Linked DNA regions of Homo sapiens. The protein of the gene in region 1 purifies or fractionates together with the protein of each later gene. This does not show direct contact. Each region holds a gene or a part of one and is shown in the gene's direction. Other genes may lie near its edges. The genes, in order: SEPTIN12 and LMNB1.

Region 1 (3,821 bases):
AATTAGCTGCGTGTGGTGGCACGCACCTGTAATCCCAGCTACTGGGGAGACTGAGGCAGGAGAATTGCTTGAACCTGGAAGGTGAAGGTTGCAGTGAGCAGAGATTGTGACACTGCACTCCAGCCTGGGCAAGGGAGTGAGACCCTGTCTCAAAAAAAAAAAAAAAAAAAAAAAAAGGCCGGGCACGGTGGCTCACACCTGTAATCCCAGCACTTTGGGCGGCTGAGGTGGGCAGATTACCTGAGGTCGGGAGTTCGAGACCAGCCTGACCGACATGGAGAAATCCCGTCTCTCCTAAAAATACAAAATTAGCCGGGTGTGGTGGTGCATGCCTGTAATCCCAGCTACTTAGGAGGCTGAGGCAGGAGAATCACTTGAACCCAGGAGATGGAGATTGCAGTGAGCTGAGATCACACCGTTGCACCCCAGCCTGGGCAAGGGAGTGAGACCCTGTCTCAAAAAAAAAAAAAAAAATGAAGCACTGTCACCCTGTCACCTGCCTGCTACAGCGTGGGGGAACCTTGTAAACATGTTTCTCAGACAAAAATCAGTCAGACACAAAAGGTCACGTATTATGGGATTCCATTTATATGAAATGTCCCAAATAGGCATAGGCAAATCTATAGAGACAGAAAGTAGATTGGTGGTAGTCAGGGGCTGTGGGGAAGGGAGAAATGGGGAGTGATTGCTAAAAGGTATGGGGTTTTTTTGGGGGGACGTGATGAAAACGTTGTGAAATTAGATTGCGATGATGGTTGCATAACCCTGGTCAAATACTAAAAACCCCCGTACCGTACAATGTTTTGTTTGTTTTGTTTTTAATGTTGTTTTTTTTATGAGATAGGGTCTTTTTTTTTTTTTTAGATGGAGTCTCCCTCTGTCACCCAAGCTGGAGTATAGTGGCGTGATCTCCGCTCACTGCAACCCCTGCCTCCTGGGTTCAAGCGATTCTCCTGCCTCAGCCTCCTGAGTAGCTGGGACTATAGGTGCACAATACCACGCCTGGCTAATTATTGTCTTTTTGGTAGAGATGGGGTTTCACTATTTCAGCCAGGGTGATCTCGATCTCCTGACCTTGTGATCCACCCATCTCAGCCTCCCAAAGTGCTGGGATTATAGGCGTGAGCCACCGTGCCCAGCAGAGACAGGGTCTTGTTCTGTGGCCCAGGCTGGGGTGCAGTGGCAGGATCTCCGTTCACAGCAACCTCCAACCTCCTGGGTTCAGGTGATTCTCCCACCTCAGCCTCCTGAGTAGCTGGGATTACAGGCATGCGCCACCACACCCAGCTAATTTTTTATTTTTCCTAGAGACAGGGTTTCACCATGTTGACCAGGCTGGTCTTGAAGTCCTGACCTCAGGTGATCTGCCTGCCTTCACCTCCCAAAATGCTAGGATTACAGGTGTGAGCCACCACGCCCAATATTATCAACATCCACATTACTCCCCATCACAGATGAATTCAGAAGTAAAAACCCATATATGTCACTTCGGAGTTTGCAAGTTTGAATTTCTGCTTCTGGCCATGAGCAAGTAAACAACTGGAGTTTACGGTAGGGTTCAACAACCTTTTCTGCAAAGGGCCAGGTAGTAAATGTTTTAGACTTTCTGGGCCGTAGGGTCTCTGTTGTGATGATTCAACTCTGATGTCATGGTTCAAGAGCAGCCATAGACAAAAATGACTCATAGGCTCAACTATGTGCCAATAAAACTTTATATATAGGAAGACAGGCAGGCTGGGTGTGGTAGCTCACTCCTATAATCCCACCACTTTGGAAGGCAGAGGCGGGAGGATCACTTGAGCCCAGGAGTTAGAGACCAGCCTGGGCAACACAGAGAACTCATCTCTACTAAAAATGTTTAAAAAGTAGCCAGGCATGGTGGTGCACACCTATGGTCCTCACTCCTCAGGGGACTGAGGCGGGGATATCACTTGAGCCCAGGAGGTCAAGGCTGCAGTGAGCTATGGGATTATAGGTGTGAGCTATATAATACGCTATATAATATAATGGGATTATAAGCTCAGCTAATTTTTTAGTTTTTGCAGAGATGGCCTTTCACCATGTTGCCCAGGCTGGTCTCAAACTCCTAGGGCTCAAGTGATCCTCCCACCTCGGCCTCCTAAAGTGCTGAAATTACAGGCAAGAGCTACCTCACTCAGCCAGAGGCACCAATTAGACTTTATGTCTTTGAACTTGGGAATTCTGTGCACTTTCTACCATGTTCCCTCCTCGAAAAGGATAGGACTCCCCTCTCCTGCCTGGGTGCCTTGACTTTTCTTCTCTTCTCCCCAGCGAAGTCAATCCTCCCATCTCTGTGTCTTCTCCTTTCCCAGGACCGAATCCCTTTTGCCGTGGTAGGGGCTGACCAAGAGCACCTGGTGAACGGGAGGTGTGTCCTGGGCCGGAAGACCAAGTGGGGCATCATTGAAGGTCAGTGCGGGGCCCCTGGGTAGGATGCAGGTGGGGTCAGTTTGGAAACCAGAGCAGCCTTGGGCAACCTTCGCACCCATCACAGGGCACAGAAAGGTGAAGCCCACTAGACAAAGAGCCCTGGGGAATGGTCCCTCTTTCCAGCTGGGAGGCTGTGGCAAGTTTCCGGACCCTCTGGGCCTCAGTTTCCTCACAGTAAAGTGGGCATCACAGTGCATCAACTTCCTAGGGTGTTGGAGCGGGGAGAACCACCATTTTGCACAATGCCCAATACCCAAGGCTGCCCTAGTGGCTGGCCGGAAATTACGATGGGCCTACTGTGTATCAGGCACCGCTATGTGCAGTTACTGCAGTGCACGGTAAAGGGAGGACTGACAGGGTCCCTGTCCCCATAGAGCTGACAGGACAAGGACAGGTCGGGGAGGCACAGTGAAGGCGATTGTGGCGGGAGGGAGAGGAGACTGCCTTAGGGAGCTAGGGAAAGTGACACAGGAGGGGCAGCGAGGATGTAGCCCCTGATGTATTATTATTATTTTTTATTTTTATTTTTTTGAGATGGAGTCTCGCAGTGTCACCCGAGCTGGAGTGCGGTGGCGTGATCTCGGCTCACTGCAACCTCCGCCTCCTGGGTTCAAGTGATTCTCCTGTCTCAGCCTCCCAAAGAGCTGGGATTACAGGCACCTGCCACCACGCCCAGCTAATTTTTTGTATGTTTATGAGAGACGGGGTTTCACTATGTTGCCAGGCTGGTCTCAAACTCCTGACCTCGTGATCTGCCCGCCTCGGCCTCCCAAAGTGCTGGGATTACAGGCGTGTGCCACCGCGCCCGGTCAGGTGATGTATTATTATAATTATTAGAAATATTCTATACTATATATATATATTTTTTTGAGACAGAGTCTTGCTTTGTCACTCAGGCTGGAGTGCAGTGGAGCGATCTTGGCTCACTGCAACTTCCGCCTCTCAGGTTCAAGCGATTCTCCTGCCTCAGCCTCCCAAATAGCTGGGACTACAGATTATACCACCACACCCGGCTAATTTTTGTATTTTTAGTAGAGACGGGGCTTCACTATGTCGTCCAGGCTGGTCTCAAACTCCTGACCTCAGGTGATCCACCCAACTCAGCCTCCCAAACTGCTGGGATTATAGGCGTGAGCCACCGCGCCCAGCCAGAAATATACTATACTATTGCCTATGATATAGCACCCATGCTATCCGCAGAGGGTGGTTCCAGGACCCCCAGGGATACCAAAATCGGCAGATGCTCAAGTCCTACAGTGGGCACCCATGGATACAGAGGCCGAGTGTACATATAATACAATAATGATTGGTGGATTCATTCATTCTACAGCTATTTGTAGGAGCCGCCTGTACCAGGCACTGGGAACACA
Region 2 (3,821 bases), on another chromosome or scaffold:
TAGTTTTTAATTTCTCTGGGGTGAATCTTTCCTCTGTTCATTATTGGTAACAGACTTTATGGTAAACAGTATATTTTGAGGAATATTTTTATTAGTTGATAAATTTTAGCCTTAGAAAAATCATCAAAAATAAAAATGTTATCTTTTTGAATATTTTCCTATTGTTTGTCTTAATAGTGTTTGTTGCTGAGTCATATCAGTTTCATCATGCTGCCTATTAGGCCATAAGAATTTCCTTTTGGTTAAATAACTCAGGTTAGTGAAGTACTTCTTAAATTTTACTTAAAATTGACATGGCTTTAAAATACTGGTTTTACAAGATATATTTAAATAATATATAGATGGTAGCAGTGTTATGTTTTGGAATTAGAAATTTTACATTGCTTATAGCATCTCTAGATTTTTGACTTGGGACCAAATGAATTGGTTGGTTAGAGTCTGCTTGCCTTAGAGAAGAGTACAGTATGGTACTTAAAAACACCTCTAACTTTTGTTTTTCTAACACCCAGATTCTGGAGACTTTGGTTGCAGCTAGACCTTAATAAACCAGTACAATTACATTACATACTATAAAATATTTAAAAACCCCAAGATCATCAGAAGTCATAAAATTTAGGGTTAGTGGCAAGATCTGAGAGATCATCTAGATAGTTAGAGCTCTTCATTTTCCTTATGTGGAAACTGGTTTAGTGAGATTAGTTACAGCTTGCTTATAGCCTCATAGGTAGTTTCAATGGCAGAATTAGAAAGGAGAATCTAGGTCTAACTTCTCATACTGTGTTCCTTATATTTCACTACACAGGTGTAAGTGCAGCTACTGAAAATAGAATTTAAATATTTCTATTTAAAATACAGAATGATTCAGAGTAACTTTAAAATTTTTATACCTAGATTTTGATTTTTCCCTCTTAAAGAGCTCTACAACATCAAAGGCAGTCAAACAGAGACATCATTGGGTTTATAAATCTCGGCTCAGGTTATCTGTGAATCTTGGGTAGTTTATATCTCTCATCAACTCTCCTTTAGATTCTACCTTTTTGCCCATTCAAATATATCTTCTACCTCTGATATATGAAATAAAGGGAGGCATTTTGAACTTACATGACTTTTTTTTTTTCTTTTGGAGAAAAAGAAAATACAAGGAACATGGTAGCGGGGAAATGGATTTCTCCATTTATAGCATGATTTTTGCAAACGCAGTTAAATGCAAGTTCTCTGAGGTTCAGGGACTACCTTTGTAATATCCATCTTAAGAGGAGTGCCTGTCTAAATAGCATGTCAAGTCATATACTACTCTGGAATTTAATTAATTGATTGGTCAATTTTTTTTCTTTAAAAATATATTTTTGTGTGTGCGTGTGAACCAGGCACCCCCTCTGCCCCCAAATAGGTTTACAGTGACTCTTGATTATTTTTTAAATAACCTTGTTATTTTGGCATAATTTTAGATTTACAGAAAAGTTGGCAAAGTACTATAGACAGTTCTTGTTTTCCTCTCACCCATTTTCCCCTGTTGTTAGCATCTTATGTTACCATAGTATATTTGTCAAAACTAAGAAACTGACATTGGTATATTACTGTGAACTCGTCTCCAGACTATTTGGATTTCACCAGTTCTTCTGTTATCTTCTTTCTGTTCCAGGTGCCACATGCCTCCCCTGGTCTGTGACAGTTTCTTGGGCTTTCCTTGTTTTTTATGAGCTTGAGTCTTGAGTAAGATTGTCCAGGTATCCTGTAGACTGTCCCCCAATTTGGATTTGTCCGGTGCTTTTCACGTGATTAGACTGGGGTTTTGGGTTTTAAGTGCCCGTTTTGTCACATCGTATCAGGGATTGCACGTATGTGATAACCACATGACATCACTGGTGGTGTTTGGTTTAAGATAGTGTTTGTCAGGTTTCTCCACTGTCAACAGCGCTACTATTTTTCCGTTCCCATACACTGTTCATGGAAAACAGCTCACTAAGTCCAGCCTACCCTCAAGGGTGAAGGACAGGGCAGGACTTAAGCGCCACATTCTGGAGGGAAATCTACATTTATTAAATGGCATTCTTCTGTAACGATTTATCCATTCCCCGTTTGTTTGGTTTGTTTGTTTGTTTGTTTGTGTCCGTATGGACCATGGGCATTTACTTTATACTTTGGGTTGTAAGCTAATACTGCAGTATTTACTTTTTTGGCTTAAATTGTTTCATATTTGGCCACTGGGAGTTCTGTCAGCTTGGCCACTATGTCCCATTGTTTTTTGAGCACTTTGTTGCTTTCTGGTACTATAACATGCTCTAGGCTCATCTTGCATTTTCCCTGCCCCAGTCCTAGAATTATCCAGTCTCCAAGGAGCCCTGGTTCTTGTTATTGGAGAATGGTATATAGAAATTAAGATCTGGGCACTGAGTGTGCTCACTGGTACTGGGTATCACTGCTTCTTGGCCCTCTCACCGATAAAAGTGGGTAACATTTTATGTATGCTAACCCATGTGTATGCACATATTTATAACTTTTTCTGTCTAATCATTTGTGTTAAGATAAACATGAATTCATACAGATGTCTCTGACTTGAATCTAGTAGGACAGCATTCAATTTTGGCTTCCTTTCTGACATACCTGTATCTTTTCTCTCTCAGAGTGAGAAACCTGGTTTTTATCATCCATTTACTTATCTGTTCAGCCCCAGTATATGTTAAAGCAGTTTCAAAATTTTGAACCTGTACTGCTGTGAAAAGTAAATTTACCAGCAAGAGTACAGTTTTTATGTATTTGGTAGCTCCTTTTTATCTCTAGCCTTCTAGATTTAGTTTTTGCACATTAGATGCCCTTTCTCTCCTGCTCTGTTGCAGGTACTTGTGATTCTGAGGGCCTAAGCTATCCATCAGTCTTTTTGAGTTGTCACTTTCTGAGGCTACTGAGATGAATTCTGTCATGGAGAAACACAGAAGAATAATTACCCAGCGAGCCACAAGGTTTCTAAGATGAACTTTCTGGTGTAGGATGTGTGATTTTTAATTTTTTTATGCCAAATATACAGCTTCTATATTCACAGTAATACTTTACAAATCACCCTATATTGTGTGTCCTTTGTGTGCTAACTGAACATGAGATAGCCCAGCAATCCTAAAGGGACACTAGGTAGTGCCTTCCACATAGTAACCAGAGTCCCTTTGCCTTGGTTTCTGAATATTCCTCAGCAGTCTGCTAAAACGTACTTTTACCCACTCTTAGGTTTATTTTGTCAGTCAGTGTTTATATCTTTTTTTTTTTTTTTTTGAGACAGAGTCTCGCTCTGTTGCCCAGGTTGGAGTGCAATGGCGTGATCTTGGCTCACTGCAACCTCTGCCTCCGGGGTTCAAGCGATTGTCCTGCCTCAGCCTCCCAAGTAGCTGGGATTACAGGCGCCCACCACTACAACCTGCTAATTTTTTTTGTATTTTTAGTAGAGACGGGGTTTCGCCATGTTAGTCAGGCTGGTCTCAAACTCCTGACCTCAGGTGATCCACCTGCCCCGGCCTCCCAAAGTGTTGGGATTACAGGCGTAAGCCACCACACCCACCCAGTGTTCTTATCTTTTTAAGTTCTTTATTTAATTTATACTTTTGGAAGTAAAGGCTTTGTAAGGGAGCCAGACTTGACTTTTACCAAAACCACATCTTAACATTTTTTTGGCTAAGTACAGAAAAATTATATGTATATTTACAGAACTTACATTTGTGGAATATGTCTTTTATTCTTTTATCAGCCAAAACTATCCTGAGGTCTGTGTTTTGTATTTGAGGAATTTTGGGTTTTAATTTCTTAAAATCTCTTGAATTCTAGTGAGTTAGAGA

What was found.
Region 2: the proteins of SEPTIN12 (region 1) and LMNB1 purify together in Homo sapiens (co-immunoprecipitation; one study listed by IntAct). This does not show direct contact.

Annotation. Positions count from the first base shown.
Region 1 is NC_000016.10:4,778,299-4,782,119, reverse strand, and holds part of SEPTIN12 (septin-12), read left to right. Parts: intron 1-2,333; coding exon 2,334-2,430; intron 2,431-3,821. UniProt on the Homo sapiens protein: Filament-forming cytoskeletal GTPase. Involved in spermatogenesis. Involved in the morphogenesis of sperm heads and the elongation of sperm tails probably implicating the association with alpha- and beta-tubulins.
Region 2 is NC_000005.10:126,814,993-126,818,813, forward strand, and holds part of LMNB1 (lamin-B1), read left to right. Parts: intron 1-177; exon of another isoform or gene 178-255; intron 256-1,642; exon of another isoform or gene 1,643-3,821. UniProt on the Homo sapiens protein: Lamins are intermediate filament proteins that assemble into a filamentous meshwork, and which constitute the major components of the nuclear lamina, a fibrous layer on the nucleoplasmic side of the inner nuclear membrane.